Homo sapiens: one gene and its partners. The protein of the gene in region 7 purifies or fractionates together with the protein of the main gene of each other region. This does not show direct contact. Each region holds a gene or a part of one and is shown on either strand. Other genes may lie near its edges. The genes, in order: WWC2, TBC1D1, BRAF, FNIP1, RAB11FIP2, SPIRE1 and CREB3L2.

Region 1 (4,432 bases), on a different chromosome or scaffold from region 7:
CATGGGGATATGTTATATTTTCAGCTGTGACTAAGTAAGAAATAACCCCCAACCTAAAAGCTAATCCTGGGATTAGTTTGTGAGATACCATTTTGCGAAGACCTAATGACTAAGCATGCCTTTTATGTAAATGTGAAATTATTGTTATTATTTTTGAGATGGAGTCTTGCTCTGACTCCCAGGCTGAAGTGCAGTGGTGTGATCTCAGCTCACTGCAACCTCCACCTCCTGGGTTCAAGCGATTCTCCTACCTCAGCCTCCTGAATAGCTGGGATTACAGGTGCGCACCACAACACCCAGCTAATTTTTGTATTTTTAGTAGAGACAGGGTTTCACCATGTTGGCCAGGCTGGTCTCGAACTCCTGACCTCAGGTGATCTGCCTGCCTCGGCCTCCCAAAGTGCTAGGATTACAGGCATGACCCACCACACCCGGCCTCATAGTACTTCTTATAATATGCTGTAAAGGTGACTTACTCACAAACAACCCATTATCCACTGAAAAAAAAATAAAAACTCCACTTTGGTTCTTGAATAAGACATCAAAAAGCAACAGTTTTCTTTAGATACATAAGTTAGTAGAATGGCAAAAAAAGTAAAGGATAAAGGCTTTCCATATTCCACCAAATCACACATAGACAAAATCTAAATTCAATTACACTCTTCTTTAAGGCTATCAATATAATATTTATGAACTTTGTGGGAGCCTCTGACATCTATTATACTAAATATGACATCTATGATACTAAAGCCTTTCTGATAGCCTAACGAGTCTGTTAGCTCTGCTTCTTTCTAACTTTATTGTCAGACAATATCATCAGATATTTTTTTCAAGTAAAGAAAACAAGAAGAAAAATTAAGAAGAAACCTACCCCTCTTAAACTTTGTTCATCATGAAACATGTGTTTCTGTGCTTCCCACTGGACTGCAGAGAAAAGCTCAATTGGAGACTCACATTGTTTTCTGAACACATGGCACATCTCTAGATGCCTGCATTTGAATACTTATGTAACTTTACTGGGACATAATGGTTTTCTGGTTATTACGCACAACAGTGTATTAAACTCACAATTAGTTAACTGTGAAGTCTTCTGCTGTAGCATTTAAATGTCATATTGCTTTAAACAGTAACATCACATCTTCCCGAAAGCTCCAATACTGTGGTGGAGGAGAATGAGGTGAATAAGGGTACTATATAGTACTCAGTGGTCTTGCTTAATTTTAATTTGTAACAGTGAATTATGTAATTATGTGGGGATATCTTTTTGATATCTGGCTTCATCGCTTACTAGTTGTATGACCGTTGAATATATTACCTCTCTAAGCAGCTCCTTATCTGAAAATAGTGGATAATCATCCATTTCATAACCAATCTTTCATCAGGTTGTCATGAGGATTAAATGAGATAATATATACACAGCAGTCACGCAAAGCTTGGCATTGGTACTGGGAGTGGTAAGCACACTCCATGAGTGATAGCTGTCACAAAGGTAAAGTTCTTCTGTGGTGAAAAGGTAGAAATAGAAAGCAACTTTTACAGAAAATCACAATTTATAAGCAGATTTTAAAGGTCTGGAATAAGAGAATAAACAGAAACCACTACTTCAGAAAAAAATGAACAAACACTAGATGTATCCCAAGATGTTGGGCAGGTCTGTAGTGATTTCTAGGGCTGGCAAAATAGCAACTACAAAGTATATCCTCAGACCACCCAATCTAAGTGCTATTTGGTAATGGGAATTATGAAGAATCCTACCAGGCATTCTTCCCTTCGGTGTTTACTGACAGAGCAAAGGTCTACCCTCAGTGTCTTCTGTTGTAAGGCTGTTTGGGAAATGGCGACTCTGAACACATCATTGAATAAAATGGATTCTGTGGGCGGATGAACTTTTGTGCGAAACAGACAGCTGACATCAGTTGAGGAAGGAAGAACGGCAACCCTAAAATATCTGCAAAGAACAAGAATAAAATGGATTTCATAGGTACTTTAATTATACCAGATTCACAGCTATCATTTGAAATTATCTGCAAAGAGAGAAAATGAGGGATCGTGGAGTTCAAGATCAATCTAAAGTGTTGCTGCCATCACGGGTCCGTGCTCAGCTGCATAGATGCTCTGTCCTTAACCCACCCGAGCTGACTACGCCCCTGAGCATGCAATGGCCCAGCCTCCACTCACCACGAGACTGCAGCAAAGGCACATGATAGGAAAGTGAAGAGGAAGAAAATCCGTAGGGCAGACGAATTTAACGTCCCACCTGCCCCATGGACAGCCAATTCCAAAATAAGTTATTTCTGAGCCTGGGAAGGTGGGAACACACTAAGTAGATACTGGTGACTTTATCTCACAGAATCCTCATCCTGAGTATTAAACAAGAGATGCTGATGATCACCTCCCAGGAATGGAATACATTATCCTACTAGAGAAAAAGAAAGGCTCAGTAGCATATTGTTAAGAAAATTTAAAACAGATGAAACAACGGTTCAAAAATATCACTGTCTAGCATCTCCAAATTCTGAGATACGACAAACTGTTTTAAGAGTCCCGTGCTTTGTAAAATTCAGAGGAAGAGTTATAGAAAAACAATAACTTCTAATACTACCTTAAAGTGACTCTTCTGAGCACACATTGTATGAGGACCCACAATTCTTAGAAAGAGCGTGAGGTAACTTCCTTTAAATCCCAGGAAGAGAATACCGCTAAGTCTATCCCCTCCACCCCCATTTCCAGGCTTGTCTAATCTAGATTCTAAAACATGCCTTTCTCCGTTAGAAAAACTGTAATTCAAATGCAGAACTGAGGAATGTCATATTATTTTGTATTTCATATCAATATTAATTATGGAGATTCAGCAATGAAAACCTAGTGGGCCTGAAGCCCACTGCTGTTGATTAAAGAGCCTTACTAAGACACAGCTCACTGTCCCTGGGAGGCCGAAGATTCAGCAGAAGAAAATCTTTTCTGCTTGTCACAATTAATAATCAAAAAATAACTTTTGAGGTTGGGAAAAAAAAGAACAATTTTAAGAATATTTCATACTAGCTGTCATGTTTAGCAGTGTCATTATTTAGGCCAAGGCTTTTACATGTGGGTTTAAGGAAAGATTGCTATATATGTCAGGAAGGTTCGCACCAACTCAACAAGTGCCTGCACATTAGCTGGGGAGCCGAAGAGCAAATGTCTGCTCATTGGTTGGGCTGAGTATTTCACTGGTCCTACACTACGCAGGTATCACCATGCCTCCAGAAGGGACTTGGTGACATCCTATGAGGTAAGTGAGAATGACTGTGATTGGTTTAGTTGAAGTAGAGCATATTGCAGGTGCACCCTTACAGTGAGTTTAAAGAAGGTGTGTGTTCTTGGGGTGTTCTGTAGTTTTCTCCTGAAGTTGTGCATTAGTTCTCACTGTTTATTGTTTCAGTCTCTGGTAGACTTGTCTTCTCCATGATTTGCTTTACTAAAAGGCCACCAATGGCATGCTCCAACATCACAGCTTATCTACTGGTAGGGAGAAGTCACAGTTTATATCAAGCCAGTCTTCCTGGACACCGCTGACTGGTGTTTTTCATCTCGCATTTGGGAAGCAGGCTCTCTGCGTTGATCTAGGCACTTCTATGTGATGCCTGCTCTCCTCACTGGTCTCACTAATGATGTGGACAGTCCACACTTTGATTCAGGAAGTTCTCTAAGCTCACCCTCCTCCTGGAATCCTATCCTACCTCCAGCTTTGATGCTTGTCAACACATTAAAATCTACTATCTTGGCTGGGCTCGGTGGCTCACGCCTGTAATCCCAGCACTTTGGGAGACCAAGGTGGGAGAGCCCAGGGAGTTCAAGACCAGCCTGGGCAACCCAGTGAGACCCCATCTCTTAAAAAAAAAAAAAGAAAGCCACTATCTCTATTCTTCTATTGTCAACTACATAATTTCTATCTAGTTCTTTTTCTCTTAGATCCAGTTTCTTCTTTCTGATGATTATTGGAATGTTAGGAGGTGAACTTACAAGCAACTCTGTAGGAAAAACATGCAGAACTCTTTAATTTATTCTATTAAAAGTCTTATCACTAAGGAATATACTCTATCATTAAGGAAAACATTCACCTGGCTGGGTATAGAGTCTTGGGGATCACCCCTCAACAGCTCTTTTTAAATTTCCAAAGCCTTGCACTGCATATTCAAAATATTATTAAGATCCACTTCTTACAGGAAGTTTCAATGCAGAGTGGACATGCATATTCCGGATTCTACGTCATAGTGCTAAGTCGAAGTCTGGATTCTTCCTGGTACTTTCCAGCCATGAGCCCTTCAGAGTCACTGAAACTCTGATGTCAGAAAATGTGAATGGTGGTGTCTAAGACTTCCAGACTTATTTGTCATGAGATCTTTAGGCTTATCTGTCAGGAAGCAAAAAGTCTCTAAGCAATGGACTGTGT
Region 2 (4,432 bases), on a different chromosome or scaffold from region 7:
ATGGAGCTGGTCTCATCAGTGCTAAACTCACACCCTGTGTAGAGGTGTTACAACTTACGTAATAAACACTCAGATAACAACACTGGATGCAGACACCAATATCTCAAATAATCTCACTGATGGTTGGGTCATGACCACACGTAGGCCACAGGTGTTCATAAGGCATTCCTTTACTCCTGGGCTGAAAAGCAAAAATCCAAAGTTAAAAAAAAAAAAAAAACCACCATAAAAATGTGAGCATGAATTATTTCTTGTTTTATTGCTTTCTTGTTTCTTTCTTGATGCAGAGTCAATGTTTTTGAGTAACAGTAATAAGATGCCCAAAATCCAACAGTAAACATTCAAATAGTAAGATCTGATGCAGAACAAAGTCCTCAAATGTTAACTCCTATAAGTTACATCTAGCGGAACCACGAGGGATAAAGGCTGAACTCATCATCTTGGTTTATGATGGAAACCGCTATCCTCTGACCCAGGGAACAGGAGGAAGTCTCGAATGCCAGCCACCTGTTTAGGCACTGGTGGCAGCACTGTGGTCTCCTCGTGAAATGGCCGGGGAGACTCACAGTGAGTCTAAGTATGGCAATCTCTCCTTTTACCCCAGGATTAAGAGATGCCCCCCGCAACTGAGAGAATCAAAAGAAACTCCTATGGAATAGAAGACGTGGTTACAGTGATAAAGATCAGAAATGATTGTGTTGTCAAGGAAGTGACCTGTGACTGCACAGAACCCCATCTTTGTGAGAAAGCAACCCACTCTTAAGTGCACATCAGAGAGGCTTTACACAGTGACTGGCTGCAAGCAGGACAACCGTGAGCAGCATTTTGCTTGTTGAAGGCACAGGTCCTCGTCATCCTGAGAGAGGAGAGTCACTGTGTGCGACCTCTGAAAAACTGTCAGCTGTCATAAATCTGACTGCAGTTTCAGCCTGATCTTTTTTTTTTGAAAGTCCCAGACTCTTGGGGCACCCCTGAATATCTTGATGTGCCTACTCCTTCTGCAAGAAGTCAGATTTCCAAGGGATGGAGACTCAAAGGAACATGATTGCATTACATCACACAACAGGCAAAAATAAATACATGACTCTATAGTATGGGTATGAAACTACCACAAAGAAATATCTCAGACCCCACAACTGCAGCTCACATGCTAGCAATACCTGGTAGGGTCTAAAAGGTGTCAGCTGTCCCATAAAGCATTTACCTACTATGACTTTGATCAACTGTACTTATGGGATAAGCAAAAATGTATGAAAACACTCTATTTTTTTTTTAAAGACAAACTTCCTTAAATACCAAAGAGAGAGATCCATTTCACTTGACAGTGATCAGGATATCCAAATTAAATAAATCATTTTATTTAATTTGATGATCTTCAAATTCAATAAAGTGATCTTAAACATTCAAATAGTAAAATCTGATGTAGAACAAAGTCCTCAAATGTTAACTCCTTTAAGTTACATCTAGTGGAACCACGAGGGATAAAGGCTGAACTCATCATCTTGGTTTATGATGGAAACCGCTATCCTCTGAGCCAGGGATCAATGACCCAAGATCACTGATCTTCCCAATGATCATCTTAGGTTTCCATAACAAGAATGGGCGAGAGCCAACTGCACCTTGCCAGGGACGCTGAGGGTGTAGTCGCCACACAAACCCTCTCGGAAGAACGATGGACCCACGCCTTTGCCTGAGGCATGATCTCGAGCTCTTCCAGCTTTTGAAATTCCACCGTATTGTGAATGCTCTTTACAAACACAGTGACACTCAAAAAGGAACCAACAAGAAAACATAAGTTGCATTTATTCACGTCCACGCCATCTAAAGCTACTGTGTACAGTAATCAGGACTGGAGAAGGGACGATTTAGTATCTAAAAACAACAAAAAAAACACTGGGACATGCCCCCTGAATTGCAAGTTGGAGTTCGTAAGAATCTACTTGCTGGCAAGCCGGTTTCCTCCCTGAGAAGCACACTTCCCGCTTCCTTCTCTCCTTCCAGCGTCTTCTGTCCCTCTCAGTTAAGGCCTGGACAGTGTGGGATGGTGTTGCAATCTCTCCTGCAGAGCTGTCAGTCGCCCGTGGGCTCGGGCTGCGTGCACTCAGGCTCCCGGTCGCTGGGCTCTGCGCTCCGCCGCCGCAGCTCCTCCACCGTCTGCAGCAGGGCCGACCGCTCCAGTTCTAAGGTAAGCATGGCCTGCTTCAGCTTGCTCTCACTGCTCAGGAGCTTCTCAATGGTGGCCTCAAGGCTTTGGATCCTACCATTTGCCACCTGGAGAATAAAAGAAGAAATGAGAATACAATTGCCAGTGCTAACACAGGTGGGATCCAGTGCCCACACGCTGTCCAGCCTTGGGAGCACTCTGGAGCCGAGTTTCAGCAGGGATGAGTCTACAGTTTATCATCAGTTCTGGCCACACAGGAAGGCAACTCGCACCCCTTGCAGGTCGGTGGCCAGGCCCTTAAAAGCACCCTGAGAGCCCCCAGCATTTTCTTCTCCTGCTATGGCTGCTGTGGAAGCCGATGCTGAGATGGTGGATCACAACACAGAGGGAACCCAAACCCCCAGGCACCACCACCAGAGGGACAGCTTGGATAGGGCCAAAGAATGCTTCAGCAACACAAAGCTGAAGTGGGCGTCAGTGACACAAAGACTTCCGTTGTGCCAAGCCTCGGAGACTTGTAAGTTTGTTACTGCAGCAGAGCCTGGCCTGTTTTGATGAGCACATATACTTAAACGCACAAATCGATTTCGGGCTGACAAAAACTCAAAACAGTTTCCTCCTGAAGGCCCACGTGGTAACAATCCTCTAATCTGAAATTCTTTACAAACACAATGATACTCAAAAAGAAACCAACAAGAAAACCTAAGTTGCATTTATTCACGTCCACGCCATCTAAAGCTACTGTGTAAAGTTAGTGATGTCTAGAGGAACAAGACATCACTACGTCAAGAAACACAGGCATTTACCCCGGAACACATATGGAGTCCTTAGAAAGGCCAAGTGTTCTGCTAAGAGGTTTATGTGCCTGGTCTCACTGACTGTTCACTACGAGCCATGGAGACAAGCAATATCCTCTCTTCCACCCTACAGAGGAGGAATGAGGATCTCACTCAGTCTACATCCTCAGCACCTAGCACATAATTAATGCTAGTTAAATAGAACTTCCAGGTGTATCTTTCTAGCAACTGTCCCTCGTCTCTCTAATTTGCTCTGGCAGGCTTGCTTCCCAGGTGACAAGTGTGTTAGCTCTAGTGACATTAAAGGGTTCCCTAAGAAAACTGCAGAAACTCCAACATGTATGCTGATGTCCCTGAGGCCTTTCTGACCTGTTCCCCAGCTCACAGCTGCATCCTGGAGTGCTCTGTGACTTGGTCTATCTCACTAATCCAGTCCAGATTTGCCATGCTCCATTTTAGGTGGGAAAAATGGTATATATATACACATATATACACACACACACACACACACACACACACATATACACACACACGTATATATACACACACACATATATACACACACACACACATATATATACACACACACATATATATATATTTTTCATTTTTCAAACAAAGAAAATACTTTTTTGAATGTGACAACACTTGTGCCAGAAAATTCATGACTCGAAGTCTAGCTCTGGCTGGGCCACTAGAACACCCAAAATATGAAAAAGGGACCAAGAGCCTTAGTTTGTCAGCCTACTGGGCAAGGGGTGGTCCCACTTGGGGTATCTCTCTAAGCTGTACTCTCTGATCCTCAAAATCCACCCATCGTCAGGGCCTGGCTCAGGGCCTACCCTCATCACTTTGAAGCCCCTCTGCATTCCGAGGTGCAACCTGCAGCTTAGTTAGTAGTGAATTAATTTGCATGGTCATTTGCTATTCTGCATTAATGTCAGGTCTCCTCAATAACACCGATGCTTTTATAGAAGCAAGCATGTCTTCTCTTTCACACATGGTCCTGTCTCCCACAGCACCTGGCTCAGTGTGGGCGTCAATGACTTGTACGGATTATGACAAATCCATGTGCATTATTATTTGGTTCCATCTGGCACGTCTATGCAATCGTCTGATGTACTGCTGAACAAAAGAGGTGGTAGAATTTGCTCTCCAGCGTCTAGACAACGTTCACATGTATTTAACAGGGAATGAAATGGGATTTTGATATTTCTAACAATTTTATGGACAGAATAAAGGTAGGAAATGGGTTGATTTTGGTATTTTGGCCCCCCCAGAAAAGCTATATGAAAATTCAGTACTGTATTGAACACCCTTCCTTGTCAGTGTCTGAAAAGTGTACACGGAGGAGGCATGATTCTTACATATGAGAGGCATATTTTCGTAGGGGATCATGGAAAAACTATATCCAAACACCACAAATCGATACAATACAATCCTAGATCCAACTCTTTGAGAGCTGCAGTGT
Region 3 (4,432 bases), 3.0 Mb from region 7:
CAAGAGATGCCAGTGAAAGGCAAGCATTCAACTGAGTTCTCATGTATAATGAAACTTATTTGAGATTGTGTGACTTACTGTTAGTATGAGAAGGCATGTGCAGGAAGAATATGAGTGGAATATCATCAGTGTTAGAGGCAATCCTGCAAAAACTAAAGGGAGATGAACATTTTCTGTGGCTCTAGAATAGGAATATAAAGACCACTCTGAATCATAATCTCTTCCCTATTTGATGTTCTCTGACACTATTCCCATGGAAGTATATATTAATGTGTGTAAAACAAAAAAGTTCTGAGTTAATTAGGAGTAATTATCAATAGTACTTTATCTTTTTATGGTAAAAAAAAGTTATAAAGGCAATAACTGCTTGCTAGTCACAGAAAAGATGGGATATTTTTATGATGGGAATTAAGTCACCTCCATAAAACATTACCAGAAATTACGCTAACAAGAGCTCTATAAAAATAATCAGCCAGGCACGGTGGCTCATGCCTGTAATCCCAGCACTTTGGGAGGCTGAGGCGGACGGATCATGAGGTCAGGAGATCGAGACCATCCTAGCTAACATGGTGAAATCCCATCTCTACCAAAAATACAAAAAAATTAGCCGGGCATGGTGGCATGCGCCTGTAGTGCCAGCTACTCTGGAGGCTGAGGCAGGAGAATCACTTGAACCCGGGGGGGGGGGGGGGCGGAGGTTGCAATGAGCCGAGATCACACCACTGCACTCCAGCATGGATGATAGAGCGAGACTCCGTCTCCAAAAAAAAAAAAAAAAAAAAACCATACCTACTTAAGACTTAATTACAATTTTATGGCTGACACCAATAATCCCCTTTAATATTAAAAATACATCTATAAGCCAAAATAGAAATTTATTTTGCAAAATAAATGGTACAAGGTAAAAAATACAGTTTAAAAATATCAAGTCAATTGAGAAACAACCCCAAGCAGTACATTAAACTGTTTAAAATATGCCAAAATAAGTGACTAATTCAAAGTATCCTAACATTTTATTTCAATTAAGCAGTTCTAAAACTATAAAGTAAAAATTTTCTGGTGTTATTAACTTAAAGGTTACATATTTAGTGCAAGAAAAAATATAAAACAAAAGTATTCCCCAACTTAAATATAATTAAAGTATCTTTTTTTTTTTTTTTGACACGGAGTTTCCCTCACTCTTGTTGCCCAGGCTGGAGTGCAATGGCGCAATATCGGCTCACTGCAACCTCCGCCTCCCAGGTTCAAGCAATTCTCCTGCCTCAGCCTCCCAAGTAGCTGGGATTACAGACATGCGCCACCATGCCCGGCTAATTTTTTGCATTTTTAGTAGAGACGGAGTGTCTCCATGTTGGTCAGGTTGGTCTCGAACTCCTGACCTCAGGTGATCCACCCATCCTGGCCTCCCAAAGTGCTGGGATTACAGGCATGAGCCACCGTGACCAGCCTAATTAAAGTATCTTTTAAAGATATCCACACTTCTTTACTTTTTAAAAACAGATTAATTTTGGAACAATAGTTAAAAATAGTCTGCCAAGATATTGTATTACTCTCTCCCTGGAAGTGTAGTTTCAAAATCGGCAAGGTGATGCTGGGTGCGGTGGCTCATGCCTGTAATCCCAGCACTCTGGGAAGGACTGCTTGAGCCCAGGATTTCGAGACTAGCCTGAGCAACACAGCATCTCTACCAAAACAAACAAACAAACAAACAAAAAAAACCCAAGGATTTTTTTTAAAAACTCTGCAAGGTGACCCAACAAAACTGGAACGATACTCCTTGCAACATGGTCAAAACTTAGTCAGTTTCTACCTTCGCAATTGTCACCTGACCCTCTACTAGTCAGGTATTCCACACTTCCTCTCTAGAAACATGTGTTTCCTGTTATTTTGTTTTTAAATTATTAAATGAAAATCATGATGAGAAACATCATTTTACACTGTAGGGATAATTCCCTGGGCTAACCAGTAAAAAGCTATCAGTGCAGTTTAAAACAAAGTAAAGGGGCCCTATAGGCCCCACTGAAAAAGGTAGAAATATGACCAACTACTACCATATGCCTTTCCTTAGAAGAAACATAATGATTTAATGATGCCCCTAAGATTCATAAAGATACTAACTCTGAAATATCACAGAACATGACATAGGTTTCAAATGGAAGAACTCTTCTAATGAAGATGGAGAATAACACATTGTAAACTAGTATCTTTCACAACCTAATTGACACTTTCGGTGACTTTTTTTGGTGAATAAACATCTTAACATATTCATTTTCCCCTATACACATTTTGATTACACCTCATAATGCAACACGGTAAAAAGGACGTGATTGACTTTTCTGTGCAACCTACTAAAATATGTCCTTTCTTATAAGGAAATTAATTTTGGTTGCAACTTTTACCTGTCACTTTTCATGAACCTCACCACCACATAATTCAAGACAGAGATATATTAACTATATACTGAAGTCTTAAGTATTTGGGGGTAGAAGACACCTTTGAAAACCTGAATAAAATTATGAGTCTTCTCCTTCCAAAAGTATGGTAACAAGAAATTAAAAAGTCAAAGTTCTAAAAATCTTCTCAACTGGACCTACCTGATTTTAAATTTAACTATAAAGCTATCATAACTAAGGTAGTGGGGTATTAGCCTAAGAAAACACACACAGATCAATAAAACAGTAGAATCCAAAACTCACAAACATAAGCAATTGATTTCAATAAAAGTGCCAAGGTGATTCAAAAGAAATTTGATAAATGTGAAACAACTGGACATCCATATGTAAAATAATGAATGAACCTTAACCACTGCTTCACAATTGCTGGAGTGCAATGACGCGATCTCGGCTCACTACAACCTCCCTCTCCCGGGTTCAAGTGTTTCTCCTGCCTCAGCCTCCCAGGTAGCTGGGATTGCAGGTGCCCACCACCATGCTCGGCTAATTTTTGTATTTTTAGTAGAGAGGGGGTTTCACCATGTTGGCCAGGCCAGTCTCAAACTCCTGACCTCAGGTGATCTGCCCTCCTCAGCCTCCCAAAGTGCTGAAATTACAGGTGTGAGCCACCATGCCCGGCCCCACTGATATGACTTTTATATGACTCCATTTATATGACTTTCTGGAAAGGGCACAGAGATCAGACCAGTGTTTGCCAGGGGCTGAGGGTAGAAGATGAAACTGAGTGCAAAGAGGAACTAGGAGCTGGGCTTGGTGCATGCCTGTAGTCCTAGCTACTTGGGAGGCTGAGGCTGGAAGATTGCTTGAGCCCAGAGTTCAAGTCCAGCCTGGGCAATACAGTGAAACTCCACCTCTCTCTCCCTCTCAAATAAATCAATCTAGTTTTTACAAAAGCAATTATGAACTTTCTATAGACCTCTAACCTACATCTTACTTTGAGAACCTCAAATATAACATATATAGTCTCCCTTAGACCAGGAGTCAGAACAGTTCAGCCCATGAACTGGCCCACTATCTGCTTTTGTATAGCTCACAAGCTAAGAATACTTTTTACATGTTTAAGTGGTAGAAAAAAAATCAAAAGAAGATTTTCATGACACATGAAAATGATATGAAATTCAAATTTCAGTGTCCTGAAAATGACTACTGGAACAGAGTCAAACTCATTTGTTTAAATATTGTCTATTAGCTACTTCTGAGCTACTACAGTATTGTTGAGGAATTGTGAGAGGAACTGTATGTCCCACAATGCCTAAAATATTTGCCATCTGACCCTTAAGATTGCTGACCTCTGCCTTAAGACACAAGTTGTTGAAATTTTCTACACAGATGATACCTGAGAAGATTTATGCCAGCACAAACCTCTCTTCCATACATAGTAGCTCTAAAATTTTTACAGCCATAAAACCCTTTTTTCAAGGAAACTAACATGTAAAGCAGATAAATGAAGAACTTCAATAGTTATGGTATAGGGCAGCACTCCCCAACCTTTTTGGGACCAGTGACCAATTTCATGGAAGACAATTTTTCCATGGACAGGGGTAGAGGGGGTTTCAGGATGAAATTGTTCCACCTCAGATCATCAGGCATTAGATTCTCACAAGAAGCACACAATCTAGATCCCTCACATGCACAGTTTCTGATAGGGTTCACGCTCCTGCCGCTGATCTGACAGGAGGTGGAGCTTTGGCGGTAATGCTCACTTGCCTGCCACTCACCTCCTGCGGTGTAGTCAGGTTCCTAACAGGTCACGGACTGGTAGATACGAGGCTGTGGCCCAGGGGTTGGGGGCCCCTGGTATAGAGGCACTAAACAGAGCCCTGGGGTAACCTCTGAAGAAGGTCCTTGAAACCCCAAAACAGTGTTTTTCAAACTGCCTGTTGCAGCCAATTTGGCTGTCAATTTCATAAGGTGATTTTGTGACCGGCAGAAAAAAAGAATAGAATGTTACAGAAAATCAGATCACCTCATATCCAGTA
Region 4 (4,432 bases), on a different chromosome or scaffold from region 7:
AACTTGTTATGTATAACTTACCACAATTTTAAAAATGTAGTAAATTTTAAAAGTTTTCAGTTTCAAACTTAAAATACACAGAATACAAGTCCAGGTTCTAAAAAACCCATATAAAATTGTGTTTAAGGAACTACTCAATCTTGTTCTGTGTTTAAAGTTCCAACTTACCATCTAGGAAATACCCCATTTTCCAAACTTGTTGTTTGGCTGCGTCGCCAACGTCGCTGGTAGCTGCTGGCACAACTTCGGGTAAGTGAGGAGTTTGGGGAAGGAAATGGAGTGATCAGCAAGCTGCTGAGAGATGCTGTTAAGTCAGAAGAACAACAAGTATAAGTCAATAATGACTAAGCATAATGACAAATTTCTTTTTAACAAAATTACAAATAGGTTAAGTTAAACTTTATTTTGCTTCATGAGCCTCAAAAATGTTCATTAAAAGAACACATCCTTCTTGTAGCAAGGTCTCAGAGGAGAAAAATCATATATTAACAATGTATCAGCAAAAAACTCTGAGACAATCCCCTTTTGGCATTCCCCTCTAGGGACTCCAGAAGAAAATTATACTTTGCAACAAGGCATTATCCCTTTGGCCACTGGATTGACTGTCCCCTAACTCAGTTGAATCCTTTTAGTTCTTAAATTAAAGGAAATCTGATGCTATTCAAACTTAATGCAGCAGCTGGATTTTAAGAACAAGCTATTGAAAATAAGTGTCTGAATGGCATTTAAAGAGGTCATTTACAAGTATTCATGGATCACATGTGCACATGTAGTCAAACCTACCACTTTTAATTAAGAATCATGACTATACCTACTAAGCTCCAAAAAAAGAATGCTCCCTGGAGCATCTAAGGTGACAAACACATTCCAGCAGACTCCACTCTTTCACGGCTGCAATCCCCTGATCTTGGGGATGGATTATTCCCTTCCCGAAACACTTCTGTGAAATCTGTAAGATATGTTTATTGCTTGAGGTGTTAAGAGCTACAACTGCTGATTTTTCATTAGGCTAGGAGATTTTCATCAGGCTTTTCCCCACTGGATTTAGAGAGGATAACACTTGCCATTAAGGGCTTGCTTTTGTTTGGCAATATTCCAGACTTCTATCTTTCATGATCATAAGCACATACTGAAAATGTATATTCAAAACAGGGAACCATTATCATCACTATTAAAAAGGTACAGGCCAGATGATAAATTATTTTGGACACCAGCACTAAAAACTGAGACACTTTCATTATGAAGATCTATTCATTTGAATTCTGACAAATTCAATGATAGAGGATAAAGCTGTATGTGCCATGCAAACATGTAGACCATCAATGAACTCATTCTAAATTACTTTAGAATGCAGATTCTAAATGCAGACCACATTTTATCAATTAGTATTATAAACTCTTGTAGTCCAAGATTGGGTATGTACAACTAAATCTGGGTATGACTTCAGTGAAAAATAAAATGCTGTCCTAAGTTTGGAAAAAATACATTTCACTGCATTCTAATATTAAAAATAACCCTATTAGAAAAAAAAGAAAACACACATTAACTTAAATGGCATATATGAATCCAATAACTTGAAGCAGCCTAACAGATCAGTCTAGCCAGATGCTTCAACTTACAAAGAATGTAAGTATAAATAAATTATACTTAAATCTTAAATAAAATAATGAGAATTAAATTCCTGCCAGGGAAGACTAAATATCTAGATTACATCGAAGCAAAGTTTATTAAAAGAAATAAACTCTAGATTCTTTAAAACAAAAATAAGAAACTCAATTAGAAAAGAAAGATGAGATTACTTGAAAAACACAAGCTACTCTTATTAGAGTAGTGGTCGGCAACCCTAGCTATCCATTAGAATCAAGTGTTAGGTTTTGCATTTTGTTTTGTTTCACAAATACAGATGCCTAGAGATACCTTCTCTAGGTTACACGAGAGTCTTTGAAAGTAGAGTTCAGGCACTTGAATTTTTTATAAAACTTCTCTTTGTTATTCTAATACATACCTAGGGATTGCAATATACAGCAAGTTTAGATTTTTCATTTATACTCAAAACTGAATTACAAAACAATTTCGATAGCAGAGCCATATAATGTAACAACACATGCTATCACACTGAATTAAGTTTCTCATATCTAACAGTAATTCAAGCCTAAAATTACTCCTCCTTTTACTTATGCTGCTCTCTGGGCCCCAACAAACACTTTTCCTTTTAGCTAAAATGCTTTTCTGAGCTTTTGCCTGGATAACTGCTATTTATTTCTCAAAATACAACTCAATCATCATCCTTCTGTAAAGCATTGTTGGCATCCCTGCCCCTTGCCCAGGCTAAGTGTGGTGCTCTTTCGCTGAAGCTTTTTGCGCAGGCCTATCACTAAATGCATCACACAATGACCTATGACAGATGATTTTCCTAATTTTTCTCCCAGTAGACTCCATACATCTGTGTTCCGTAAGGGCAGACTCTGGGCTTTAATTTTTTTAATGTCCACCATGTTTCAATAAATGTTTGCTAGACCTACAAATTTTGGACAGGTCCATATTTGGAAAAAAAAAAAAAGTATAACATTGATTCAAAATGCCTATGCTTTTCTGGGCAAGAGACAATATGACAATTTAAACTTTAGTTAGCAGCAAGCAAATATAAGCAAACGTGTTTTTTTTTTACTACAGTTTCTAAGCAGTTTTTCTGACCAATGCTTTTCTTCTTATATTCACTAAGCTTCAACCAGTGTACTTTACTCTGGCTTTACTTCATCCTGGCTTTATCCTACTTAGCACACTTAAAAGTAAACATGAAAAATATTAAATTTATAAGACTTTGCTCTGGTCTTTTCACAGTTCTCTTGTAAGGCTAATATCAATATGAACAAATTTGATAATAAAGGGAGGGATAAAAAAGAAAATCAATGCCAACAGTAATCTCATAAAAAACTGAATACAAGAACGTGACATTACCAGACCGTGCTATGCCACTGTCTCTGTCCTCATTGAGCTCTCTTCCAGGCATGTCCATTGGGTTGCTGTGAACTATAAATAAAGATGAAACTGTCAGTTATAAAATATATTGCTATTCAGGTGGATGAACAGCTCCTTTTAAATAGCAAACGAAATCATGCTCATCTCATTGCATTCCCTTATTTTTTTCAATAGCATGGCACCAACCCAACACCAAGAGCTATTACTCAGTTGAACAAGCTTTGAGAGCTCTGTGAAGATTTGATACACAGTATAAGAATCTAAAACATAATATCTAAAGAAGCAAGGAGTGACTAAAAGTCATATTTTGGAAGCATATTCAGTGACATATTTATAATATACTATTAAATGAAAAAAAGCAAGCTACTGAACAGTATGAGTGCTTGCTGGGACCAAGTGGTGGGTATATCATAGTTCACTGTACTGTTTCTGCCTATAACAATGTATGTTTCAAAATTCTCTATAATAAATTGAGATATTTATTTGAATAGTATGATCCCCATTTTCTTTAAAAAACAAAAAAGCAGGTATTTCTGGCTGATAAAATGGCTAATATATATTTTTGCCTTTTAAAAGTGTTTTCCAAGTTTTCTACAAATATATATTTTTTATATCTAATATTTACAGGGAAAGAAAATATTAATCAAAACAAGAAGGGCTAAATTGATACCAATCTGAGAACAATGAAGAGTAAATGTGTTCACATTCCAGTAATTTCCACTAAAAGGTTACAATGTTAGGTAATCCGCTAAAATGTGTGAAAACAAGGAATATGATTAGAATCCTGGATATATACACATGAACATACTCTACAATCATCAACTTGATTATGTAAGCAAATATAGTCATATATGCCTTTTACAGAGCATTATAGTAGTGCTTGTTCATCTAAATCTTAGCTCCAAGAAAAACTGCTCTTATGGAATAGTGTAGATCAGAAATTTTACAATAATAACAAGATAGGATAATTTTCTGCAATTGGTGAACTATGGTACAAAAGCTACTCAGCCATGGAAACAAGACAGTGTCACATTAAAAATTCCAAGTGGTATCATAAGAAATAAAGTTCATATTAAGTTTTGGTTTCAGATTCTGAAGTTAAAATCATTATGCCACAAGAGAAATGACAAACTGAAATTTCATAAAAATGTCAATTCTACTGATAATCCGGTGTCTGGAAACTTTAAGAACATGTTCAGTAGAAAAGGAATTAAGTTTTTATACTTCCTAATGCAATGTTTTCTTAACCACAACCTCACCAACTGCATTCATCTACTCTCTTGTTTCCACAGCTTAACTACAGATTCTAGCCGTTGGGGCACACCAACTAGTCTACCCACACAGCACATCGCAAACCTGCAAAGAAAGAGGCGCTCCTGATCAGGCGGAGCGGACCCTGCTCAGAGAATGCCCGCCTGGGGCTGCAGAACTGTGAAAGACCTACATGGCAAAA
Region 5 (4,432 bases), on a different chromosome or scaffold from region 7:
ACATTGAATGCGCTGACGAGAGTCGCTGAGGACCCAAGAGAAAAGGCTTTTTTGGTTTGGATTTCATCTGTATTTCACCACTTGAAAATTCACTATTGGCATCGGGCATGTGAGTACTTGGAATGATTGCAGAAGACGTATCAGAAAATGTTCCATCATTTTTTCTACCCTTCATCTTATCTTTTAACTTTGCAAAAGGAGATCTGGTTTTGTCCTTCATTGATAAGTCAAACATACTTGCGGTCATATTGTTCCTCATAAACTGAATATTGACCTTTATCTCACCCCTGTTTTTGATTCGTTTTCCTTGTTTGGATTCTAATCTAAACCACCTTAAAGAGAAGAAAAAAAAATTGGCTGTAACACATAATAGAGAGAGGATACTGAGTTCTGTTACATACAAATAGCCTTTTAGGTAAAGTAACTATACATCAAGGCAACCTAAGCTCTGAATAAGAATCTGTCAGCCACAGTATTTCGGGCTTTACTTATTATTTAGTTTAAAAAACTGATCATTGTCTCTGTGATGTAACATATACTGAAGGAATGAATAGGTCTTTGGCAAGTTTGAAAATGTTTTCAGATAATCTTTTCTTTTGTAATTTGAAAATCACTCATCATCAAAAATTCTTATCAATGCTAGAAGTTTTCCATATGGGATTAAGTGTTGCTCACGGCCTAAGGACATTTTTTTTTAACATTAAAAGACATTGAGGCAGAGATTTTGAAAGAATTCACCAATACAAATTATTTTTGAGCATTATAAAATGAATCTCATGACATTTTAATACAATAATAAATACCTGGCCCCATCCCAAAATATTACTTACGTAAAAGTAGCAAAAGAATTTTGTTAACATTGGAGATCATTGCATATAGCTTGCTAATCATTAAAACAGCATATGATGTCATTTAGATTGACATAAAATGAATCAAAGCCTACTCCTGAATAAAATATGCAAAAAATAAGTAAAATGCAAGAAGTGACAAAAAATAAATCTTGTGAAGTTTTCAAAAGGAAAAAAAAAAACCTAAAATGCTTCTTGTTTGAATCTATTTGCTTCATTTTACTATTGCTACTGTGACAATACCAAATAAAAATTATTTTGAAAATGAAGCCAAATCTTACGTTTTAGTCCCTTCAATGTATGGCACTATCTGTATTTAAATGATATACAAGAAGCAATATTTTGGTTTTATAGTATTTTTATCCATGAGAAATTCTCCAGTTGGCCATGTCACAAGTGGTCATTCTATGGGAAAACAGCCAAAAAAAACTACAAAATCAAGCCTGAAAGAGTTTCTACAATGTTTTCACATAACTTAGCAATGAGGCATAATATCCATTCCTGCACACAGGTTATTATTTAAATATAGCTCTAATCGAGTGTAACAAATTTTCTTAGCTACAAAGGAACTCTGATCTAATTTTACATTAGTTCTTTCTCTCATTGTTACCAACTGGATATGCCAAGAGAAGATTACATTTACTGTATATCAAGTTGAAATACTGGCACATGATATAAATACCAGCTACATCTTTGCACGTAACATGGAAGAAAAATATTTTCTTGATTAACTAAATTGGAGCTATTCAATCAATTCAGATATAGTTGCATCAAAACTAGCCATTTCTTAGAATATCAATATTTTAAAATACTATTAGCCTGAGACCTTAAACTGAGAAAATCCCTTATATAAGGCAAATGGTAAAATCTGAAGAAACAGGGGCTAGAAATAAGAAATGACAGCGATTTCTGTGAAATAGACAACCTTAAATAACATACAATTGAGCACTCAAAAAGCCTGGAAATGAAGCAGATTATATACCCAGTTAACTCAAAGTTTTGGAAAACAGAGCTATTTTCAATAGGGAGAGAAACACATCTGACGAACAGTAGCTCAGAAATACTCTGTAGTACCTCAGGCTTTATAGAATGTAGGTGAATATACTTTGCAAAAAATGTACCAAAAATTTGCAAACAAAAACGAGCACGTATGTAACAAATCAAAGCAAATATGAGTAAAAAAAAATTAATTACCCCCAAAATGGAAGGGGGTGGGGGTAGTGGAAATTCACAGACTTTTAGAGATAAGACCAATAAATCATCTACTTTAACATCTTTATTTCATAGATGAGGAAATTGAGGCACAAGGAATGATATGTAACTTCCCAATGTCAGATTAAAGTCAATAAAGAAAAAAATCTAAAGTTGATGAATAACATCTGCAGGAAAATAGAAGCTCTTTCTTATTTGATGAACCACATATGTTAATAAGGTTAACCACATGGCTGGCACATACTGCAGGACACTGTATTTAATAAGGAGACATGAGAGCTGAAGAGAAAGACAATGCAAATTTTCTACTGCTAGAGTATAAGCTCCTGGAAGGCAGTCTGCCTTGCATTAAATGTTTATTCAATTTTTATTTCTAGAACTATATTCTTACAAGTAAGCTACAACTGTGTGTGTGTGTGTATGTGTTTACATTGTCTTGTTTTTTTAGTAGGAAACTGTAAAGACCTATGTAAACCTGAATAAAGCAAATCAGTATTTGACTACAAACTGTAAATACACTATAATGTCCATTCCCCACCCCCCAAAAAAAACTGCAAAGAACTTTTACAAATATACTCATTGAAAATGTAGCAATGACAAATAACTTTAGTTGCTTTGTTTTGAAAATGACATAATAGGGAAGTCTTAATGAGATCTTCAAGAATCATTTCAGAGATAGCATTTGTTTTTCCAGTCTTCAGAAAGATAAAACGAAGACACAGCATTTGGAGCTTACTGGATTAGCTGACTTTTTTTCACCTCTGGAGTACTGGATTTAAACTGTACATGGCCTCTGTTCAATTTTTAGTGGGCACAGGTCCATGTTCAAAAACCAGCACACATATGGGAACTATTCCCAAGCAATTGGTGCTGTGTGGTCAGAAATGGGACAAAATTGGCAGTAAGGGTGCCAGAGGCCAGGACACAGGTGCACCGCTGAGACACACACACGTCCTAAAATCTGCATATGTCTGAGTCACATCTAACTCTACAGACTCTGGTTGTTATTACTTTTCATGAGCATTAAAAAAAAAAGTCAACATCACCTACTTCTATTGTAAAAAATCAATGGATATTACACAACAGCATCAATGATTTTAACATTCTATTACTAAACATTGTATTATTTCTTTAAATCTCATGCCAGAACCAACCCAGACATCCTCTAAAGGAGGAGATACAGAAGTTCTCTTCCCAGGCCCACTCAAAGGGTTCTGGCTCAGACCCTTTTTCCCCATTCCTTAAGAGAGAAAAAAGACATATATTTTCAAGGTAAGAAAATAAGTAAAGTAATAATTTTAGTTGTCATACTTCTTTATCTATCATGACACAACTGGAAGACAAGCTGTAAATATATGTCTTCAGTGTCAAAATGTAAAAAGTGTCACACCCAGCAGTTTCATAGGACATCTAAGTTAGCTGGTAGTCCTCATCACTCGAAACAGTTTTCTAAAAAGCACTTGGGAATATGCTGAAAAAGTTTAGCAATGTGCAGAATATTAAATATCTTCCTTGAAATATACCGGCGGCTCAAGTCTGTCTCTTACTGGGCCACAGGTACAGCTGTGCTAGAAAAGGAAGCTATTAAATATATTAAAAAACTAGAAATATTACCAATAAAGATATCTCATCAAATACATGGTCCCCATTTATCCACAAATAAAATGTTAAGGGTTTAGCAATATATGAAAATCACTTTGAATGCAATAACATCACAAACCCTGTTGATAACATTTAAAAGCATTTTACCCCTAAAGTTCTAATCAATTTTATATAATAGCCAGTAGAGAATTTCTATAAGGAGAGACCATAATATTAGAGTATTGCTCACACCAAATGTATTGTAACTGTGATGTTGCCCAGGACTAGGAGTAAAACAAGAAGAAATTGTAAAAGGTTATTTCATCCTCAGACTCCTTGGGTTCACATTTGGTCCTACTTTCACTAGGAAAATTTATGTTTCAGAGAAGGCCTGAAATACATGATCCATGAATATTAAAGTACTATAAATGAAGTGAGGAATTTGAAGGTGCAATATACTTAATAGTTTACATTCAAAACACGTTAAATATTTACTAAGTGTCACCCAAAATTGGCAATTTGAAACAGATTATTTGGTAATTATCCATTTTTCACTTTCAATTTGATAAAGAATCCCTCGGAGGAAACTGAATGCCACTCTTTAGGTATCAAATAATTTTATTATTCAAATCACTGATATATATTAAACTTTACATTTAACTTTTTCTCTCCTTCTAAAATATTTTCATCTCAATTAAATGGTACCATTTTTCCTCCTGCATTCCTAGTATTTCTGATCTCTCTACACTTTTACTCCACATATATTAAATCTTAGGTTAAGACCTGATTTA
Region 6 (4,432 bases), on a different chromosome or scaffold from region 7:
CAGCTACTCGGGAGGCTAAGGCAGGAGAATGGCGTGAACCCAGGAGGCGGAGCTTGCAGTGAGCCGATATCGCGTCACTGCACTCCAGCCTGAGTGACAGAGAGAGACTCCATCTCAAAAAAAACAAAAACAAACAAACAAAACTCAAAGTGAATCCTTTCTTTGCCTAAAGTGGTATATGGCCTTAGTGTTCAGATATCTCTGTTTGGGGAGAATTGATAATCAAATGCCAGCAGGTCTTCAGTAGAGGCAGGAGTGACAGGAGTTAAAAAGCCACCGTGGCACCTGACCACGTGCTGCCCAAGAGCACATCTAAAACGGGAAAAAGGACAGAGGTTTTTCCTGCATTTCATGACAAAGATCAGAGAAAGGAATGTTTTGTGTCTTATTTACATTGAGTCTCCTTTCCATATCAAGATGACTAAGAAAGAGTAACAAAGAAACCAGCTGCGGGGTCATCTGTCAAGGACAAGGTTAGTAAATCCAAGGCTTTAGAGAGCCAGGCCCTGCCTACTGTAGCACAAAGGCTGCTCTGAGCACCTGCTACGTGGTGGCAGAAGAGGCTTCAATATGGTCGTAGAGCTTTTTATTTCACGTAGAATTGTGAAGGTTCAAATAATGATATATTATTCTGTGTAAAAAAACCTCAAAAAACAGTAATATAATGCAGAATTATTTAAAATAGCCACATCATTAAAAAGGAAACTTGAAATTTCTCTTTGCAGAGAAGTGACGTACACACCCTGGTTGTCATAACACAGCTTCATGACAGGTGATGGGAGCACACAGGTTTCCTGAGCCCATGCCCTGGTTGTGCAGGTGTCTGTGGGTGGGCGGAGTCCACCATGGCTACCTGGCCTGGCAGGAGGATGCTCTGCTCACGGAATGAGTGAGCAAATACTCTTCTGATGGTGGGGGGAGGCCCTAGGAGGAATGCACCCCACGGGCTCAGAGTGCCTGCTGCACATGGAGAAAGGTGGCAGCACTGACTCTGCTATACAATTAGGTCACCCGAGGAGACAAACACCCACAGGTCCCCTTCATCAGATGCTGCATTTTGAGTTTGTTGTCCTTTCCCAGTTATTTCCCTCAACTGAGACCACGGCATGATCGGTGCATCCTGCACAAGGGTGGAATCAATGATTGGAAGCAAAGTGCTATCTAAGCGGTTAATTCTCAGAGAACGCAACAGTTGAGGTGTCACCGTCAGAGATACAGAGAATGAAATAATCCCAGACCCAGCAGAAAGAGGCCAACCTTTGAGGATTTCCACCTGCTGGTAAAAGCTCTCTCACACAGATAATACATAGCCCCTGCTACCCCAAACATGGCTGCTTCAAAAGGATGAGAGCTGAGCAGAGAAGCTGTTTGTATGGTAGAAAAAAGTGGTCGAAAAGGCGTCCTTGGCCATACACTGGTTATCCTAGGAACCTGAACAACAGATAAGGGAAAAAGAAAATGGCAGGGGGAAAAGAAAAGGAGAAAATAATGCTGAACACAAGTGACCTACACATAGTGATTACAGATCACAAAAGGAAAACAAAACAAAAAACACCATGAGGCTGGTACAGTCCGTGCGAACATCTGCATCCACACGTATAAATCAGTGATGAAACCACGAAGTCCTTCCTGGAGAATCTCAGCGTTCACACAGCAAGGATTTTTCTAATTTAGGGTCCTGCAAACACTCTGAGTTTCCTCAGTGGGGCTTGTTGTGATGAAGGATAGAGGCAACTCGTTACTGTGCCTGAGAAAGCATGGGGACATGTGCCAGGCAGCCACTTGCACCTGCCCCAGGAAGGTACTGCCAACACGAGGTGCCTTTAGACTGGATGGGCATTTGCCCTCGGTTATTTGACCAAATGATGAAAAAAAATGACATTTTAAACATCACAAGAAAAGGGAGGGAGATACAACAAAAATAAAAATTATCAGCCGGGCACAGTGGCTCACGCCTGTAATCTCAGCACTTTGGGAGGCCGAGGCGGGCAGATCACCTGAGGTCAGGAGTTCGAGACCAGCCTGACCAACATGGAGAAACCCCGTCTCTCCTAAGTATACAAAATTAGCCGGGTGTGGTGGCACATGCCTATAATCCCAACTACTTGGGAGGCTGAGGCAGGAGAATCGCTTCAATCCGGGAGGCGGAGGTTGTGGTGAATCGAGATTGAGCCATTGCACTCCAGCCTGCGCAACAAGAGCGGAACTCCATCTCAAAAAAAAAAAAAATTATCAACAATAAAAACATTCCTGCCATTTTCAGTTGAGGAGTTACAAATACAAAATGATTCTTTGTTTTCTAAAATGCAGCTACATTTAAAAATTAATTACACTTATAAAAACAATACTTACCAAGCTATAGGGCATTACTACAAGGTATGATTTTATGGATTTCCCAAGATAAGCTATTAGCAAGGAAGATCATTTCGTCTCTGCTGGTGCTTGGAGGCCTGCGTGGACTCTGCTCCCTGCCCTCAATCTGACCACTGTTCAGTGCTGAGCAGAGCGGCTCTCCCACTGCCTGCTCACTGAGACCTTCCTCAGTGATTGCAAGTTAGTTTATCTTGCTCTCCTTCCTGCTCCACAAAAAAACAGTGCACGGCCTGACCTCGCAACACTAAGAGCTCTGCTTTAACAGGAAACAGACACAGTCATGGGCCCTTGGGGTCAGCTGAAGGTCTCAGCATAACTTCTATTATAAGCTGAAACTACCTTGTAGCTAAGCTGATAGTTCCTTTACATTGCTAATTTTAAACTTTAAGTCTAACCTCAATAATGACATTGTATGATCACATAAAGGCCAGTTACAAGCTGAATGATAGACTGGCTTCTAGGAAAAGCTGAGTGAAGAAGAGAATACCCTAATGATTAGACTTATGAAAAAAACCACAAGTTCCCTCTTACCTATACACATGTATGTGTGTGTGTGTGTATGTATGTATATACATACATGTGTGTATGTATGTACATATGTACGTACATACATATGTGTGTATGCACGTACATATGTACGTACATACATATGTGTGGTATGTACGTACATATGTATATACATACATGCGTGTATATGTATGTACATACATATGTATATACATACATACACACACATATACACACACATACACATATGTGTGTATATATATTTTTAGAGACAGGGTCTTGCTGTGTCATCTACGCTGGGGTGGAGTGGCACATTCTTAGTTCACTGTGGCATCAAACTCCTAGGCTCAAGGGATCTTCCCTCTGCAGCATCCTGAGTAGCTGGGATTACGGGCATGCGCCACCACATCTAACTAAGTTTTTAATTAAAAATTTTGTACAGACAGGGGTTTCTTAAGTTGCCCAGGCTGGTCTCAAACTTCTGGCCTCAGGCGATTCTCCTCCTTTGGCCTCCCAAAGTGCTGGGATTACAGGTGTGAGCCACTGTGCCTGGACCCTCTTACATATTTTAAAGTTGTGATAATAGCTGTATATTTTGGTAAAAGCAATAACTTATTCACATGAAAACAAATTTTTAGATTTTTACGTTTGAATCTGTCTGGTCAGAGTTCTGTTTTCTTGTTGGTAAGTCACTGACAAGGCTATATTTAATCGAATAGCTGTGTTTTGGTGATTATTCTGGAGCTAGAAGAATCCTATCAGGAATCGCCATAAAATCATTAGTTCTTTAATTGCACTGTTTTGGCATAGAGATGAATGACCAAATATTAACATTCTAAGCTCTGTTCAAAATCCCTGTCTTCACAATAATCGCATTATCTCCCATCTGTTATTACTTTAATTGAAACTCTAATAATTCATCACAGCCTTAAAAAATGGACTTAGTATTCAATATATTCTATTATTTTTTATTCATGAATATTTGAAAACACATTAGATATTTGACTGTGGGTAGAATATTAATTACAGCTGTGCATCTTGCCTACAAATATTTCAGAAGCCAAGTGGCGCTACAAAAGAGTCTTTGGAGACCTCTGTTGGCTGGGAGATCTACTAATTCCTCCTGGCAAACCCTTGTGTGCTGCCCACTGTCCTGAGAAATGAGCACCCACTATAAGAACCTGCAAGTCTCTGGAAAACAGCAAAAACTATAAACCAGTTCAACCAAAATAACACCACTGGCCCCAAATATCACAAAACATACTAGAAAACAATGTACAGTAGTTATTAATGGATCAAAATTCTCCCTCGCTTGTACTTCTGCCTCAATAAGATCACCTACTGTAGTCATTTTGCTAAGAGTTTTTTTGGTCAATTTTTAACAATTTTTAAATGGATTAATAGCCTTTGAAAGAAAGAAAGCATTTCTTTAATAATAATCCATACTTTCAACCACTGATAAATTTTCTTGAAAAAAAAAAAGAGCTCAAAATGAACAAACACTGGTCAAGTTTCGTTTAGGTTATGGATAGAGTTTGGAGAAGGTGTCACT
Region 7 (4,432 bases):
AAAATATAAAACTCCCCCCTTACCACCCATAACCATCTAGGGAAAATGATTCATGGAGAATGGGAGTGGAATACTTGGAGATGTCCAGACCCAGCTAAAAGAAGCAGCATTCCCAGTGAGTAGGTCTGGCAGGGGGATGAGGTACAGGGCATCTCATTTAGAAAGGGAAGAGGAGACACAAAGCCAAAGCCATAAATCAAAGGATAGAGACAATCTCCTTTGTTTTGTAGGACAGTCACACAGCTAGATGGCTCTGTAGCAATTTTCCATGACATAGAAACTATGCTTCCAATTAAATTTAGAGAGATAGTTCCTTGGGGGGAAAAATTCTCAACAGGCCACTGAAATTATTTAATTGGAATGCTAGCACTTCTGTCATACCTGGCAGAGACACACCTGCCTGGTGAAGACCACAGACGTTTCAAGATGGCAAAATTTTCCCTATCCCAAATCCAGTACAGTAGTCCTCCCTTATCCATGGGGAATACATTTCAAGACCCCCAGTGGACGGCTGAAACCGAAGATAGAACTGAACCCTATATATATGGTATAAGGTATATATGTATGGGAAAAACCATACAGGGTTTATATATGGGCATATAGCATGTAGGGTTCATATGCCTTTTCCTATACATATGTACTTATGATAAAGTTTGATTTAGAAATTAGGCCCAGTAAGAAATTAACAATAATAATAAAATAGAACAATTCTAACCATATCTTCTAATAAAAGTTACATGAATGTGGCCTCTCTCTCTCAAAATTTCTTATGGTGGTGTACTCAGCTATTTTCAGATAACTGCAGGTATTTTTATTGGCTGCAGGTAGTGTTTCTTACTATAGTGTATTCAGCTATTTTAAGGTAACTGCAGGTATGTTCATTGGCTACAGGTAACTGAAAGCTTAGAATACAAAACCTCAGATAAGGGGGGACTACTGTACTGCCTAACCCCATGCTCATTCCTATAGGTGTAGGTGTGAATTTGTGTGTGTATTCCTTACTCACCATCCCTTTATTTCTAGGTGAGAACACCATACGCTTCTTATCTGACACCGGAGTCCCCATATTCTCTAGATCTTGGGCATAAGGTTTTGGAAGGCAGGCTGATTCTTTTTGTTTGTTTGTTTGAGATGGAGTCTTGCTCTGCCGCCCAGGCTGGGGTGCAGTGGCACGATCTCGGCTCACTGCAACCTCCGCCTCCCAGGTTCACGCCACTCTCCTGCCTCAGCCTCCCAAGTAGCTGGGACTATAGGTGCATGCACCACCATGCCCAGCTAATTTTTGTATTTTTAGTAGAGACGGGGTTTCAGCATATTGGCCAGGCTGGTCTTGAACTCCTCACCTTGCTGATTCTTTTTTTTTTTTTTTTTGATGGAGTCTCGCTCTGTCGTCTAGGCTGGAGTGCAGTGGTGCGATCTCGGCTCACTGCAAACTCCGCCTCCCAGGTTCACAATATTCTCCTGCCTCAGCCTCCCCAGTAGCTGGGACTACAGGTACCTGCCACCACGCCCGGCTAATTTTTTTGTATTTTTTAGTGGCGATGGGGTTTCACAGTGTTAGCCAGGATAGTCTCAATCTCCTGACCTCGTGATCTGCCCGCCTCGGCCTCCCAAAGTGCTGGGGTTACAGGCGTGAGCCACCACGCCCGGCCCTGACCTTGCTGTTTATTTAATTTCACTTTACAAGCCCTTACTATATACATTGCATTACATTACTCATACAATTCCACTCAGTGGAGGCAGAAACACAGCAGTTCTCTTAAAACGTCACAGAAAGCGACAGACTCTTTCCCTCATCTGCTTCCCTCTCCCTTATCAGAACTCAAAAATTAGATGTCAGAATGGATCAGGGAACACAGTCTAGAACAGCAGTTTGCAAACTGTGCTCTGTCAAGCTCTGGAGAATTCCCAGTGATGCCGCAGTCCAGTGGATGAGGGGCCCCAGGGGAACCCCCACTTGCCTCTTCAAAGGGAGAAGCTCCACTTTTACCACTTTTTAAACATTGGACTTTCACAGAAGATTCCTTTTGGAAGACTGAGAAACCCAGCTCTAGGGAAATAAAACAAGACCCTGCCCAACTTGCCACATGCTGTCTTACCCACGGAGGCTGTGTAGGGCTCCTGCAGGGAATGCTGGCTGGGCAGAGCCATCTTGGTGGCAGAAGGATAGGGCCCGTAGCCTTGAAAGAAGCTGCCGAATGCAACGGCAAAGCACAGCACCACAACCTGTGGGAGAGAAAGAGGGGAGAGAGAACACGAGGGGCTGTGGACTTCAGCCTCTGGACAGCACAGCTTTATACCCAGGGACACAGACTCTCCTCTTCAGGCCAGTGGACTGCACCCACCAGTCACATCACCAGAGTGCCTCACCGAGGAACAGCCTCAGAGTGGAGTTCCTCCATGTGGTTTCTCCTACAGCACAGCACTTGGCCTTGGCAAGTGGAGGGAGAGGGGAGACAGGGGCCAGGCCAGGGGCGGTCACTGTGCTACCCTGCTGGGAAGCTCACCATGAGGCAGGTGCCAGTCTGCGTGCCAGCTAACTTGCAGGTTCGAGAAACCTTGCCCATCACCAAAGTCTGAAGCTTCTGGAGTTGCTGAAGGAGAGTCCTGCCAATGATAACAACAGCCGTGAGGGGAGTCTGACAGAGAAGAGATGCTTTTTGATCTCTCCATGTGACCCAAGAAGGCCGCCGTGCCTTTGTGCCTGCATTTCAACAGAGCCCCAAGGGACAGTTTCCTCTGGAAGAAGATACGAACACCAGTACCTTCTAGCACCATTGTCACAGAGCTCACTGGGGCTCAGAATCAGCCTTCACACTTGAAAGTCCTGTTCTTGCACTGCCCTGAGTTAGAGGTAACTGCCTCCACATTACCCCTGACAGGCTGTGGCTTGTTTCTCAGCGATTGAGAACAAAGGAAAAGGAACACTCTGATTGGATGGTGGCTAAAGTCAGAATGGTTGTGTCTCTCCTAAATTCCTATGCTAAAACCCAGTCCTCTATGTGACGGTATTAGGATGCAGCACCTTTGGGAGATGATTAAGTCATAAATGGAGCCCTCATTGATGGGATTCGTGCCCTTATAAGGAGCTGAAAAGACTAGAGTGCTTCCCTTCCACTATGAGAGGACACAGCAAGAAGCTGCTTTTTGTGAACCAGAAAGCAGGCCCTCGCCCAACACGGAATCTCCCAACACTTTTATCTTGGACTTCCCAGCCTCCAGAACTGTAAGAGATCAATTTCTGTTGTTTGTAAGTGACCTCGTTTATTACATTTTGTTATAGCAACCTGAACAGACTAAGAAAATGTCGATTAAAAGAAGAACTCATTTAAGCAAGAGATGAGAAACATTGACAAAAACATAAAAAAGGGACAAAGGCAAAGAGAAGGAAAAATAAAAAATGACCAGCAGAGAACAACAGAAGGAGTGGCCAGAGGTGGGGGCTGTGACTGGAAATGCCAACAGAGAGTAACAGGCATTCACAGGCAGGTTAGAAGAGAGAGAGAAAGGCCAGAGGTGGGGGCTGTGACTGGAAATGCCAACACAGAGTAACAGGCATTCACAGGCAGGTTAGAAGAGAGAGAGAGAAAGGAGAGGAAAAACAAGAACGGCTCTGTTTAAGGCAGAGAGGCAAACAGCCACCTGCAGCTCAAGCCTGTGGTTCTTAAACGCTCACAGCACCTCCAGAGTCAGGAAACGAAGCCAACATATGAAAGAACAAAGATGCCTGCTCAACTGGACCCTCAAGCCCAGAGTCAAGGGTCTTTAAAACCATCCTTTGAAACAGATTCTAGCCTTTCTCCAGGAAAAAGACAAGAGAGCAAGAGCAGAAAAAAAAAAAGGAGACGTTTTATCCCTAAAATTGGACAACTGTGCCTCTCCTTAAAAGGCAAAGTTTGAGGGATAAGAACAGTCTTATATACTCTGCTCTGTGTGACATCAGCACACAGAGCAGATGGTAAAATTCTTTGCAAATTCTGAACACTGCAAGGCATAGAAAAGGATCTGACAACACACCCTCCTGAGTTAGAGCACCCGGGAAGAGTTCCCTGTGAGTGGTGTAAAGAGTTGAAGCTCCTCCTCATCCTCATCCCCCACCCCCAAACCCAGTGCATATGGCAAAGTGGAAAGATTTTATGAGCAGATGCTTTCTCTTGGGTCTCAAGGATTCTCGGAAAATGTGTGCTGTGATGTAACAATGTTAGACAGCCACATAAGTTCACTGGAAAACATCATCAAATCATTTGTTCACAGAATGCTGTGGGCTTTCGCAGATAACTTGCTTCTCACCACAGTCTACCCCCGAATAGCATTCAGGTGCTAGAAGGACAAGCAGATTTTTCCTGGGCTTACATCTTCACCCCCAGCTAGTACCAATGAAACAAGTTCTCCCAATTTGAGCAAATTAAGGACAGGTTGGCCACAAGAATGA

What was found.
Region 1: the proteins of CREB3L2 (region 7) and WWC2 purify together in Homo sapiens (co-immunoprecipitation; one large-scale study listed by IntAct). This does not show direct contact.
Region 2: the proteins of CREB3L2 (region 7) and TBC1D1 purify together in Homo sapiens (co-immunoprecipitation; one large-scale study listed by IntAct). This does not show direct contact.
Region 3: the proteins of CREB3L2 (region 7) and BRAF purify together in Homo sapiens (co-immunoprecipitation; one large-scale study listed by IntAct). This does not show direct contact.
Region 4: the proteins of CREB3L2 (region 7) and FNIP1 purify together in Homo sapiens (co-immunoprecipitation; one large-scale study listed by IntAct). This does not show direct contact.
Region 5: the proteins of CREB3L2 (region 7) and RAB11FIP2 purify together in Homo sapiens (co-immunoprecipitation; one large-scale study listed by IntAct). This does not show direct contact.
Region 6: the proteins of CREB3L2 (region 7) and SPIRE1 purify together in Homo sapiens (co-immunoprecipitation; one large-scale study listed by IntAct). This does not show direct contact.

The regions. Positions count from the first base shown.
Region 1 is NC_000004.12:183,266,487-183,270,918, reverse strand, and holds part of WWC2 (protein WWC2), read right to left. Parts: intron 1,949-4,432; coding exon 1,756-1,948; intron 925-1,755; coding exon of another isoform or gene 877-924; exon of another isoform or gene 872-876; intron 1-871. UniProt on the Homo sapiens protein: Regulator of the Hippo signaling pathway, also known as the Salvador-Warts-Hippo (SWH) pathway.
Region 2 is NC_000004.12:38,134,974-38,139,405, reverse strand, and holds the end of TBC1D1 (TBC1 domain family member 1), read right to left. Parts: intron 2,272-4,432; coding exon 2,071-2,271; 3' UTR 233-2,070; downstream 1-232. UniProt on the Homo sapiens protein: May act as a GTPase-activating protein for Rab family protein(s). May play a role in the cell cycle and differentiation of various tissues.
Region 3 is NC_000007.14:140,914,288-140,918,719, forward strand, and holds part of BRAF (serine/threonine-protein kinase B-raf), read right to left. Parts: intron 1-4,432. UniProt on the Homo sapiens protein: Protein kinase involved in the transduction of mitogenic signals from the cell membrane to the nucleus. Phosphorylates MAP2K1, and thereby activates the MAP kinase signal transduction pathway. Phosphorylates PFKFB2.
Region 4 is NC_000005.10:131,706,243-131,710,674, forward strand, and holds part of FNIP1 (folliculin-interacting protein 1), read right to left. Parts: intron 4,420-4,432; coding exon 4,336-4,419; intron 3,031-4,335; coding exon 2,959-3,030; intron 305-2,958; coding exon 169-304; intron 1-168. UniProt on the Homo sapiens protein: Binding partner of the GTPase-activating protein FLCN: involved in the cellular response to amino acid availability by regulating the non-canonical mTORC1 signaling cascade controlling the MiT/TFE factors TFEB and TFE3.
Region 5 is NC_000010.11:118,040,234-118,044,665, forward strand, and holds part of RAB11FIP2 (rab11 family-interacting protein 2), read right to left. Parts: intron 333-4,432; coding exon 1-332. UniProt on the Homo sapiens protein: A Rab11 effector binding preferentially phosphatidylinositol 3,4,5-trisphosphate (PtdInsP3) and phosphatidic acid (PA) and acting in the regulation of the transport of vesicles from the endosomal recycling compartment (ERC) to the plasma membrane.
Region 6 is NC_000018.10:12,458,498-12,462,929, forward strand, and holds part of SPIRE1 (protein spire homolog 1), read right to left. Parts: intron 1,432-4,432; coding exon of another isoform or gene 1,258-1,431; intron 1-1,257.
Region 7 is NC_000007.14:137,882,896-137,887,327, forward strand, and holds part of CREB3L2 (cyclic AMP-responsive element-binding protein 3-like protein 2), read right to left. Parts: intron 2,608-4,432; coding exon 2,508-2,607; intron 2,227-2,507; coding exon 2,100-2,226; intron 1-2,099. UniProt on the Homo sapiens protein: Transcription factor involved in unfolded protein response (UPR).